3 separate regions of the Homo sapiens genome follow, and all the other regions are reported to be linked to region 2. The links are microRNA targets in miRTarBase. Many come from high-throughput screens and were not tested one by one. Region 2 holds a microRNA gene; each other region holds the end of a gene's coding sequence.
What was found. Region 2 holds the annotated microRNA hsa-miR-411-5p (UAGUAGACCGUAUAGCGUACG, at 2,108-2,128, shown strand). A microRNA usually pairs through its seed, bases 2 to 8, with sites in the 3' UTR of a target mRNA and lowers its output. Matches are read on the target gene's strand: a 7mer-m8 pairs with bases 2 to 8, a 7mer-A1 pairs with bases 2 to 7 and ends in A, and an 8mer does both.

Region 1: miRTarBase lists KIAA0930 as a target of hsa-miR-411-5p. Seed matches in the 3' UTR shown: 8mer at 3,682-3,689.
Region 3: the mRNA of THAP8 is a reported target of hsa-miR-411-5p. The part of its 3' UTR that is shown has no 7-base or 8-base seed match.

What each region holds. Positions count from the first base shown.
Region 1 is chr22:45,193,943-45,197,942 of GRCh38, reverse strand. KIAA0930 reads left to right here. Exons shown (of 10, transcript NM_001009880.2): 9 at 1-153; 10 at 727-4,000. The coding sequence ends at 767. Among named protein-coding and RNA genes, the nearest start is that of MIR1249, 5.1 kb to the left of the region's middle.
Region 2 is chr14:101,021,233-101,025,492 of GRCh38, forward strand. MIR411 (microRNA 411) reads left to right here and starts at 2,093; the gene lies at 2,093-2,188. LOC124903407 (mucin-2-like) reads left to right here. Exons shown (of 5, transcript XM_047432049.1): 5 at 1-4,260. MIR379 (microRNA 379) reads left to right here and starts at 834; the gene lies at 834-900. It overlaps MIR299 (microRNA 299), which reads left to right and starts at 2,562; the gene lies at 2,562-2,624. It also overlaps MIR380.
Region 3 is chr19:36,032,138-36,036,137 of GRCh38, reverse strand. It overlaps THAP8 (THAP domain containing 8), which reads left to right. Exons shown (of 4, transcript NM_152658.3): 4 at 546-1,154. The coding sequence ends at 698. CLIP3 (CAP-Gly domain containing linker protein 3) reads left to right here and starts at 3,265. Exons shown (of 14, transcript NM_015526.3): 1 at 3,265-3,414; 2 at 3,723-3,946. The coding sequence starts at 3,781. All of the region lies in intron 3 of LOC101927572 (a long non-coding RNA gene), which reads right to left. RefSeq lists a silencer at 366-539.

The DNA of each region.
Region 1 (4,000 bases), not on the chromosome of region 2:
TGCACAATGCAACCAACCTGCGGTCTCGGTCCCTGTCGGGCACAGGACGGTCCCTGGTCGGGTCCTGGCTGAAGCTGAACAGAGCAGATGGAAACTTCCTTCTCTATGCACACTTAACCTACGTCACGTTGCCGCTGCATCGGATTTTAACAGGTAATGCTGGCGGATGTGGGGAAGCAGCCGCACCTTCTCACAGCCAGCTCTGCCTCCAGGGCCTTGGTACTTGTGAGCCACCCGGAGTCATCCCGCCCTGTCCTGTCGGTTGGTTGGGTTTCTTTGCAGGGCTCTTGGCCTCTTTGTCTCAGACTTTGGGTGGAGCCGTAGCTTTCCCAGAGCTGAAGTCCTCCCTTTGTTCACCTTTCTGGCGCACCTGCTGTCCCCTCTTGAGTGGCCACAGATGCCCAGGTGTGTGTTACTCACGGGCGAGGGGAGGCTCTCAGGCCACCTCGCTGACCCAGGCCTGCAGCAGCTGTGACAGGCAGTGGCTCTGGCCCCCACACCAGCTTGCACCTGAGGCCCTGCAGGGTGTGCCGTTGCTGCGAGCCCATTTCCCAGTCTGCAGGGTGAGGATGGTGGAGACACGTCTCCTCTGCAGTCTGTGAGGCCTGGAGAGGAGATGCATGAGTGGCTGAGGCGGGCTTCCTTCAGAAGTGGCACTGCCGTGACCATAGCACTCACCGCTGTTGAGGGTTACTGTTTCACCTGCTTCCCTCCTGCCGGCCCTAGACATCCTGGAAGTTCGGCAGAAGCCCATCCTGATGACCTAGCCGCGTGCGGAGCCTGCGCAGAGCCCCGGCCGGGCCCAGCCCTCGGAGTGCTGCCAAGTGCCTACCTGTCCACCGCCACCGGGGTCTGCGATGGCACGCCAGTGCTGGAGCCGCAGCCAGGCGAGGCCACTCGACTCCCGGGGCCGGGGCCGACTCCACGAACACCAGCCCAAACTGAAGTGCCTCTTCCCTCCCCTGCTGGCGCTGCTCCGCCCTGTGCCCCCCGCCCATCGCCCCCCACCCATCTCTGGAGAGCCCTCTGCACCCAAAGAGGACTAGAGATGCCGAGCGGCCATGAGAGAGAGCGGAAGGAGCAGCTGATGCCCAGAGCGGGGCCAGAGCGGCGGGTCTATGTTCACGTCCCCCCAGCAGCAGGCGGAACCACCCAGCCAGGGCACTCAGTGCATTGGACTGTCCACATGTTCTTGAGGAAAGCCGGTGGAAGATTCTGGAATGCCGTGCGGATGAACTTCAGCACCCGAGTCAGTCCCAGCTCATCCTCCCCAGTTTACCACTTTGTTCTAATAGGAGATGGGAACACGAGAAGTTTGATGGCTTTGCCCTGGGCTGGGAATACCTCACCCACGCCCAGTTCCAGAAAGGCCTCCAGCTGAGCAGACGGCCCCGATCCCGCCAGAACGGCCTTTTGCTTCCAGCCAAAGAACACCGCCAACACGCACACCTCCAACCTGGGACATCCCACGCTGGGCCTCGCACGGAGGAACCTGCAGAATTTGGATTCTGAGGGTAGTCGGGAGGCCTCGGTAGCCAGGCAGAACAGGATATCTGCCAAAGGGTGTCTGATGTGGGGTGGGGCTGGCATCCTCCCAGGAAGGTTCTAGGTGGGACCCCGTCTTCTGGGGGCGGGGGTGTCTTTTCATCTTCCCTGGTTTCCTAGAACTCACTTCCTTTGACGGCGTGTGTTGGTCCCATCTCTCAGACCAGCTCACTGAGGCAGAGGAGTTGCTCAGAGGCTCACATGGGCACCCCCATTGGTTCGTGTGAGCAGCTGCCCAGCCCCAGGCCTGCCCTCGGCCTGGTCCAGCATGAAGGCGTTTCCATCTGCAAGGATGCACGGTACCCTCCCCGAGAGCAGGCCTGTCCCCTACCCAACTGGGAATAAACTGGAAGCTGGGTCTCTTTGTTGCTATGTTTTTTTGTTTGAAGTTCCCAGGAATATTTGAGGGGTTCCGGTGATGTGTTTAGGGATCTTCTCTGTGGGGGAAAAGGAAGAGGAGGGTCTTGTTCTCCCATCTGTTTATTCTTTGGGCTCTGGGAACAGGGGACTACTTTGGGGCTTTCTCCAGACTTTTGTATGTTGTTATTAAAAGCGAGCTATTGCATTTCATTCTGCCTCAGTTTGCCCACCTGTGAAATGGGGCTGATACCACCTACCTCACTGAAGTCCCAGGGTTCAAGTGTGTGGCTGGGTCAGGGCGTGGTCACCCGTCATTCTGCATAGGTCGGGTTGGATGTTAGACTCCTGGGATGCCCTCCTCCCCCTCGCCCTTTGTAATAACCTAATCTGAGACCGTGCTTGGTGGGGGGATGTGAACTTTCTCTCTCCCCCAGCAGTGTCTGCTCAGGCCTGACAGCTCAGCTCTGCACGATTTCATGTTCCTAAACCCATGTCTTAGGGCAGCACAGAGCCAGGTCATGTCATGCCCCAAAGTGTGGGGACAGAGCCTCAGGGAGCCCCGAGCATGGTCCAGCCCCATTTGAGTGCTCTCCGGGGATGCCAAATGCTGCTTCCAAGTTTGAGTCCATGTGGCTAAAATACACCCATTTCTTCAGGAACTCTTCCCCTGGTTGTTCTGGGGATCTTGGGAGAAACACAGCCCTGACAGCTCGTCCGTGGGAAGATGAGGCAGTCCAGGTTGTGAGGAGCACAGCGGCCCGCCCTCTGTTCTCAGAGGTGAGGGGCGGGAGAAGGTTGTCTCCTCTGGGGCCAGCATTTGGCCAAGCTCGGAGGCTTGGCCAGCACTGCTGGATGGCTCAGAGCAAGCTGGGCTCCCCGTCTGTAAGATGGCAAAAATGCTGCCCCCCTCACAGGGTGACCATGAGGACCAGTCACAGTGATGTGTGAAAGGGCTCGCTGGTCACAGAAACGTGTACAAATCATGCTATTTTAGAGATCAGCCCTCAATTTGTAAGGCATGTGAACAGGGCACGCGGTGGGCTGGTGGTTTCATAGCCGACACACAGCGCCTACCATGTGCAGCTGCCTGTCCGACCCCATCTTACAGACGAGAAAACCAGCACACAGGCACCAAGGAACTGTCCGGAACTAACAGCAGGGGCCGGCGATGGGAGTCAAACCCAGGCACGCGGCCTGGCCTGCATGCTGAGCCACATGGTGCTGTCCGGACAGATGGACAGACACTCGGTGGAGTCTGCCTTTCTCAGGCCCTAAATCCCTCTCCAAAGGGTACTTGCGATGCCGGATTTAAAACTTGCTCAGAGCCACTTAGCCACTTGAGAACCAGACAGTAAGGTGTTACTCCCAGGTTTGTTTTTCCAAAGTAACAGATGACATGTGGAATAAAGTAATAGAGTAACAAGTGGCAGGGCCAGAACCAGGGTCCCCAAAGTCCTGGTGTTGGCACATTTGTACTTCTTGTAAGACCATCTTTAATTTTTCTGGGAACACACCTGCCTTTTGTGTAATGCGGGGAAGACTAATGCATGGTGACACCTAGTTTTCCTCAACAGGACACTTGATCCCAAAACCCCTTTAAGACCTTAGGTTTCCTCAGCGGAAAACTGTACTTTAATCCCAAACCCCCTTTAAGACATATTGGGGCTGGGCGCAGTGGCTCACGCCTGTAATCCCAGCACTTTGGGAGGCTGAGATGGGTGGATCACCTGAGATCAGGAGTTCAAGACCAGCCTGACTAACATGCTGAAACCCCATGTCTACTAAAGATAGAAAAATTAGCTGGACATGGTGGCAGGCACCTGTAATCCCAGCTACTCGGAAGGCTGAGGAAGGAGAATCACTTGAACCTAGTAGGCAGAGGTTGCAGTGAGCCGAGATCACGCCATTGCATTCTAGCCTGGGCAACGAGAGCGAAACTCTGTCTCAAAAAAAAAAAAAAAAAAAAAAAAAAAAAAAAAAAAAAAGATACATTGGTCTTTAAACCCAAACCCCCTTTAAGGCATGTTGGTCTCAAGGGGATTTGGGATTGAAGCACAGCTTTCTGTTGAGGAAACCTAGGTGTCACTTTTTAGAA
Region 2 (4,260 bases):
GTAGTGCCAGCAAAGGCATGTGGACAATGCACGGGGTATGGAGGGTAATCTCTTAGACTAGACTAGCTCACACTTGGAGGGAGCAGGGGAGCATGATGCCTTGAATGACTTCCTAAGGAGTTAGGACTTCAACAACTGAGTTGCAGGGCCCCGTCTACACTGGGGTTCAGGACTTTAGAGGACAACCGAGCTGTCCTGCAGGGCTGCTGAGGGTTCTGCCCTTGTCCTTTCCCTGGAGGCTAACAAATCATTGCTTTGCATTCCATTCACATGGGATAGTTGTGCCATGAAAGGGGATGGAGAAAATCAAGGAAGACCTCCTGAAGGAGGTGGAGAGGTTAATCAGGAGCTGGAGGAACGCACTGCCCACTCAGCTCTGTGGTTTGAGTCTCCAAAGGTGGTCTAGAGCATGGCGAGGACCATCGGAACTTGGGTGAGCTAGGGAAGTTTTTACCTAGAGGTTGAGGGTCCCCTTTTATATGATGAACTGTGCTCTTGGAGTGTCCCATTTGCCATGCAGAACAAAACACTGCCCTTTATCTTGATGAAGAGATAGTTGACCACATAATGGCCAAAGCATGGTCAGTATTGTACATTTTGCCTTGTCGCAGTCTTTCCAAGTTGACATGGCCTTCCTGGAGGAATTACCACTTAGGGTAGAGGCACCCCTTCCCCCATCAATGCCACTGCCCCACATTGGAGGAGGGGTTGTTTATGTTCACCATGTGCCTGCTTCCAATGCCAAATCCAGCCTCAGAAAGCTTTCTGGAAGTGACGCCAACTTCAGGGGCAAGGCCCTGGTTCTGGGGTCAGCACCATTCCGTGGTTCCTGAAGAGATGGTAGACTATGGAACGTAGGCGTTATGATTTCTGACCTATGTAACATGGTCCACTAACTCTCAGTATCCAATCCATCCTCGGAGGGCTTCCTGGAGGTGTTGCCAACTTCAGGGAAGAGAACACGTGGTTTAGCTTCAGCACTGCTCCACGGCAATTTCTGTGGCTCATGGTTGATGTCTGACTTGTGCAACAAGGCCTGGCTCTTCTGGGCACTAAATGCACTCTCTGGGGAGTTTTCTGGAAGTGATGCAACTTGGGCTCAAGACACCGGTTCCAGCCTCAGCCGTGGTTCTGGAAGAGATGATTTGCCATGTGGCCTGTGCGAAAGGAGGGATTTGTGTGAGATGGGCTACCACTTCCCAGTAGCCTGCCAGCTTTGGAGGGCTTCGTGGAGCCAATACTACCTTCAGGGGGACCCACCAGTCCATCCTTCATTCCGCTGTGTGGCATTGAAGAGTTGCTTTCCTGTGTTGAAGTTTTCTGTTTATACCAATGTCCACCTCTGATCAATCTTACATTCAGTCTCAGGGTTTTCCGGAGGCAGTGCCAAGTCTGGGAATGAGACAGTGGTTCTGTCCTTAGGGAGGTGGTTGACCAAAACAACTCCTGCTTTGTTCATGAAGATGGCATGGTGGTTACTGCTCAGAATCTAATCCAACCTAAGAGGACCTCCTGGAAATGCCCTTGGTATTGAGGCAGATATGGCCTTAGGGCACTTTTTTTTTTTTTTTAATGCCCAAGACTAGAGCTCACTAATAGGTAAGATCTGGGCCTCAGGTGCCCAGTACTGTTTCCTTGGCCTGGTTAGTGTAACTAGATGGATGTTCTTTGGTTGCACGTGGGCCATTTTGTATTTCTGATTTTCTCCCCACTCCCCTAACCAGCTCTGTTAGCCATGTGCCATGTCCTCCCTCCCATCTACCCACTCCTTCAGACCCAGCACAGTGCGCCTGGCACACAGCAGGCACTTAATCAGTATTTATGGAGTGATGAAATCCATATCATCGTCCACTTCTTCTCAGTGGGACTTTCGGCCTCGAAGGGCTTCCTGGAGGAGTTGCCAGTTTTGGGGATGAGCCACTGCTTCGAGCATTCATGTCAACCCCCGACCATGAAGACGAGACTCCTGGCCTGTGTGTGCTTGTCGCATGATGCATGTGCTGTGCTCAACCTCCCTTCTGGTTCCACCCAGCTCAAGGCCTTGGAGGGCTTTCTGGATGTGTCCTGAGCCTTTGTCCTCGGCATCTCTGTGTGGTACTTGGAGAGATAGTAGACCGTATAGCGTACGCTTTATCTGTGACGTATGTAACACGGTCCACTAACCCTCAGTATCAAATCCATCCCCGAGGCTCCTGGAAACAACGCTGTCTTCGGGGAGGAACGGTTGGACCCACCACCACTTCTCCATGACACCCGAAGAGATGATTTTCTGTATGGCATGTGTTTTTCTGCATGATGCAAAATGGCATAATCTCGCTCCTCTTAAATCAAGTTCTGCCTTGGGAAATCGCGCCATCCCTGGGGAGGAGACCTTGATTCTTCCCGGAATCAGTGCCATTCCATGGTGCTCAATGACGTGGTTGACTACGCTACGCTTATTCAGTAGACACCGTGACCTGCTTCTTCTCAGCGTCAAATGCAGCCTAGAAGAAGCGCCCTCAGGCAACTTCGTGGACATGAGCCTTCTTCCAGCCACCACCACCACCATCGTGCGGTACTTGAAGAAATGGTTTACCGTCCCACATACATTTTGAATATGTATGTGGGATGGTAAACCGCTTCTTGGTATCCAGCCCAGCCATCCAAACCTCCCTGGAGAAAGCCTGGAGTTAGAGGAGAGCCACGGGTCTCGGCATCCGCCATGCCATGGCACTTGGTGGAATGGTAGACTCTTAGATGTGTGCTTTCTCTGTCAATGCTTGTGATGCGGTCTTCTCCTCAGTGCCAAACACAGCCTCCAGTGACTTCCTCAGGACAAGGATGACCTCCAGGAAGGTGTCCTACTGCCCACGTTGGCACATCCCTCTGGAGTAATTGAAGAAACGGTGGCTGGTGCCGCAAATGTTCATGAACGAGGGATGTGAAACAGGTCACCTCTCATCCTCAGAGCCCTCCTCAGATGACTTCAGGACAGTACGCCCATGTAGGAGCAGATATGGGTCCAGGAGATGATGCCACTCCAGGTACTTGAAGACGCACTGACTCGTTTTTGTCTTTGCTGATGCGTGTACAGTCTATCTTTTTTCCATCTCAAGTCTAGCCATCTCGGGGGAAGATGTCCCAGCTCTGGACTCAGCACTGATCCTCATGAAGAGCTGCTCGACCCCATCGTGTATGTTTACAGAGGAAGTGCCTCCATGGCCCACTTCTTCCCTATCTCCATCCCAGAACCCTTGCTTGGAGAACTTGCTGAAGAAGCTGCCAGCCTCAGGGACAGAGCACTGGTTCTGGCCTCTTCACTGACCTCACGGTACCTGAAAAGGGTTCAGCCACACTGCATGTCTTTTCCCCATGACGTATGTAACATGGTCTACTTCTTTTGAAGTATCCCATTCAGCCTGGAAAGTCTCCAGGGAGGTTATGTTAAGCTTAGGAGACAAAGCACCAGTTCTGGTACAAGTACTGCCTCGGGGTACTTAGTAGAAGTTGGCCATGCTTCATATGTTTTACTTACAACGCATGTTACTTCGTCCACCTTCCTATAACAGCGTGCACCTCGGGGGGCTTTCTGTAGGCAGGAACGAGTGTCAGTCATAGCACTAGTTCCAGCATCATCTCCATTCTTGAGGGGCTCCTTTGTGCTGCGTCCACTGCATCTGCGGCAGACATTGCATGGTGGCCTCTTCTCAATACTACATCAGGCCTCAGAGGGCTTCCTGGAGGTGATGCTAGTGAGAGGAAAGAGACACCGGCTCTGACCTCAGCCCTCTCCAAGGTACCTGAAAAGATGGTTGACCATAGAACATGCGCTATCTCTGTGTCGTATGTAATATGGTCCACATCTTCTCAATATCAAATTCAGTCATAGAGGGCTTCCCAGAGAGAGGCAAAGTCACCTTCGTGGGAGACACACTGATCTGGCTTCAGCGCCATTCCACAGTACTTGGAGAGATGGTAGAGCATAAAGCATATGCATTGTTGAATGACAGATGTAGCATGGTCCACTCATTCTCAGTATCAGCCAGCCCTGGGGCTTCCCGGAGGCCATGCCGACTTGAGAGCCAGGCCTGAGTGGTAGCCAGGGTGCAGTGCAGGTCACCGGGTGGTTGGCTGCAGACCCAGTCCTTTATTTATTACATTGGCCATTTGGTCCACCAGCCAAGAACTCAGTACCGGTCCCACCCTTACAGGGCATCCTGGAGGTGGTAGTGGCATTGGATGTGGGTTTGTGGTCATTGCCACATTGCCGGTGGCTGGTAG
Region 3 (4,000 bases), not on the chromosome of region 2:
GACAGTGGGGCAGGGACAGAGCTCAGACTCGGGCCTGGGGCTCTTTGTGGAGCCTGCCAGATCCCCTGAGCTGACTGCCTCTCTCTGCCTCCCCTCCTGTCATTCAATCTCTGTCTCCTACTCATCTATCCCTACCTCCCAATCTCCTCCCTCCCCAACATTCATTGTCTTTCTGCCCATCATCTCTGTCCGCCACCTGTTTCCCCACCTCCCTGTGTCTCTCTTTATCTGCATATTTTCTGTCTCCCCCATATCTCTGACCCTGTCTGTACGTCTGTCTGCCTGCACATCTCTTTCCCCCACGTGTCTGCGTCTGTGCCCCCGCACTTCTCTTCCCATTTCCCCACCCTTCTTTCCTTTCCCATGAATGTCTCTCTGGCCCTCACATCTGCTTTCCTGTCTCCTCATATCTCTCCCCACATCTCTCTCTGTTTCCTGACACGCCCTCCTGCCACCTTTGCCTCCCTGTTCCTCACCGTTATCTGTCTGTCTCTCCCGCAACTTGCTTCGTAATGTTCCCCATCTCTACCACTTCTTTGCCTTAGACAACAGCCCAGACCCTTGGACCTGAGGAATCCCAAACCTTCACCATCATCTGTGGAGGGCCTGACATAGCCATGGTCCTTGCCCAGGACCCTGCACCTGCCACAGTGGATGCCAAGCCGGAGCTCCTGGACACTCGGATCCCCAGTGCATAAGGATCAAGACAGACAATGTCGAGGGACAAAAGATAGAAGATGGAGGAGGAAAGACATTATACGTGGGCTTGGCCCAGCCCCACCGCCCACGCCTGGGTAGTAGCAGTGCCTCCCTCAAGGGCCTGGGTTCTACCACCCCACTCCTAGGGATCTCTTGAACCTTAGGGGTGACCTGGGCCCAAGTCTCTCATCAGCCCCCAATCCCCTGGGTACCAGGCTTCTGCCACCCCCGGCTCAGATCTTTGCAAATCAGTACGACAGCCTCAGAGCAGAGCAAGGGTTGTTTGGGAGAATCATACCTGGTTCTAAGGAGTCCCACGCTTTTTGCCAAGCCTGGTACTGAGTTCATGATACCATGGTGGACACAGCTGAGAAAATCCCTGCCCTCATGGTGCTCATTCTACTTGAGTAGACGATGAACTAGTAAACAAATAAACAAGAACACTGCAGACATGAGCGATGAGTGCTATAAAGACAACAAAAATTTGGTTTGGGCCTGGGGGAGGGCCCTCCAAGGCCATGTTTTAGCAGAAACCTGGGTGATCAGAAGGGGCTGGCCTGGAGCGCTACAGGCTCAGGTTCCAGAGGACGAACAACCCCTGCAGTGAGGGCCTGCTGTCTGGGATGTGTCAGGTCTGGGAGGCGGTGTTGCTATGGAGAAAACCATAGTAGGGAAGGGAGGAAGGGGTGCAGTTTTAGAGCAGAGAAGGTGAAAAGACACCAACAAGTAAGATCCTAAAACAGGGCAGAGAGGGAGCCACGTAGGGATTTGGAGGAAGAGCATTCCGGGCATCACAAAGAGCCGTTGCAGGCCAGGCACGGTGGCTCACGCCTGTCGTCCCAGCACTTTGGGAAGCTGAGGCAGGCAGATAACCTAAGGTCAGGAGTTTGAGACCAGCCTGGCCAACATGGCGAAACCCCGTCCCTACTAAAAATACAAAAATTAGCTGGGTGTGGTGGCACAGGCCTGTAATCCCAGCTACTCGGGAGGCTGAGGCAGGAGAATCACTTGAACCTGGAAGACAGAGGTTGCAGTGAGCAGAGATCATGCCACTCCACTCCAGCCTGGGGAACAGTGAGACTGCCATCTCAAAAAAAAAAAAAAAAAAGAGCCAGTGCAAAGGTCCTGGGGTAGGGAGAAGCAAGGAGGCCAGTGTGGCTGGGGTGGAGTGAACAAAAGAGGGTGAGAGGAGGTGAGTGCAGAGATGATGGGGCAGGTTCACATAGGCCCTTGTGGGCCATGGCTGAGAGCCTTGGCTTCTACCTGGAGTGAGGTGCAGCAGGCAGACCCCTCTGAGGGAAAGAGGGCTCCAAAGTGACAGGTGTTCATGGGTCCCTGTGGCTGCATGTTGGAGGAGGACGGGGACAGCAGGTAAGAGGCTGCTGCCGTAGTGCTGGTGGCAGAAGAAGAAGGATGGACCAAGATGAGGGCCCAGGGTAGCGGTGGGGAGAGTGAGATCCTGGAAATCTTTTGGAGATGGAGCTACTGGACCTGTGCATTAGAAGGATGAGGTGTTCAAGGCTGTCACCCAGCCCCATCCAGGCTGGGATGATTTGAGGCAGAGCAGGCTACAGCTCCAGGTGGGAAGCCAAGCCATGACAATGGAGCCAGGACCCTGGGCTGGCTTCAGGAGGCCTCCGTGGGGAAGATACAGGTTCTGAGAGAGTTGGAGGGGTCAATCGGCAGATCTGTTTCCCAGACACTGCTACAGGCATGTAGCATGGTGATTAAGAATCAAAGCTGGGCATGGTGACTCGTGCCTGTAATCTCAGCGCTTTGGGTGGCAGGGGCAGGAGGATCCCTTGAGGTCAGGAGTTCAAGACCAGCCTGGGCAACATGGCAAAACCCTGTCTCAAAAAAAATTCTCCAGACATGGTGGCATGCACGTGTGGTCTCGGCTACTCGGGAGGTTGAGGTGGGAGGATGGCTTGAGCCCAGAAGTTTGACGCTGCAGTGAGCCAAGATCACAACACTGCACAGTAGCCTGGGTGACAGAGTGAGACCCTGTCTAGGAAATAATAAAAATAAAAATCAGACTTTACAGACTGTCTGGTTTCAAATGTTCGCTCCATCACCTACTCATGTACTTTTGGGCAAGCTGCTTAACCTCTGGGCCCCAGTGTGTGAGCCTCGCATTATGATGGTAAGGATGAGATGATCATGATAGGAGTCTCTAGGAAATCACCCCTCTGAGGCACCCATTATGAATGGTGAGCTTGGAGAAGGGGTCCGGTCTAGGGTCCTAGAGAGAGGGTCCCCTAGAGGGTCCCCATCGTCACCACGCCCCAAGACCACTGCCCTCACCGGCCTGGTTTGCAGGCGTGGGGGAAGGGGATGGAGAAGATCTGTGTCCGCTCTCTCAGCCCTCTCTTTTGCCGTTGTATCTGCTCATCTCGCTCCTTTCCGTAGCCATCTCTTCCTCTCCCAGTGCCCGGAGGCTCTCCCCTTTCAGTCGCCGCCTCTGGCCCCTCCATCAATGCGAGCGCCTCCCGGTCCCTCCTCCTGGTCCCTCCTCCCCCGCCGCCGGTAGGGGGGCAGCAGGCGCATGCGCAGTCGCGCCCCTCCCTCTCCGCCCCCACCCCCTGTCGGCGTCTGGGCCTCGTCCCCTTCTCTCTGTCTCCCTTGCCTCCCCCATCACGTCCCCTGACACCGACACCCCATTGCTCCCACAGTCTCCCCAGTCTCCACTTTGGTCCCCAGCGCTGTCTGCCCGAGGTAAGATGGGGAGGGGGCGGCCCGCGGAGAAGGGGAGGGGCGAAGCATCCTGAATCCCGAGATAAACAAACCCGGGGAGGGGGCAGCCGCGACTGAGGGGCCTGACGCGGGAGGAGAAGAATGGGGGGCTGGGCCTGGGGGAGGTGGCAGGCGCTGGGCGCACACACCGGGGCCCTCTATGGGTAACGGGGGTCCCTATGGTTGCCCAAGATCCAGTTGCGCGGAGGCCACCCGGGGCCCTGGAAGCTCCTAGGGGCTTGGACCCTGGAGCCTGCCGGGCACCCTCTCCAGCTGACCTCTGCCTCCAGGATTTGCCTGAAGGCTGCCCCCAACTCTGCACCCGCCCCCCGAGGGCCACCGAGGACCATGACTAAGACAGATCCTGCCCCGATGGCCCCGCCACCCCGAGGAGAGGAGGAAGAAGAGGAGGAGGAGGATGAACCCGTCCCCGAGGCCCCCAGCCCCACCCAGGAGCGCCGGCAGAAGCCTGTTGTGCACCCCTCGGCACCTGCCCCCCTCCCTAAGGACTACGGTAACCACTGTCCCCACCCTGGAATCTGGCCTGGAGCGTTGGGTGGCCGGGGAG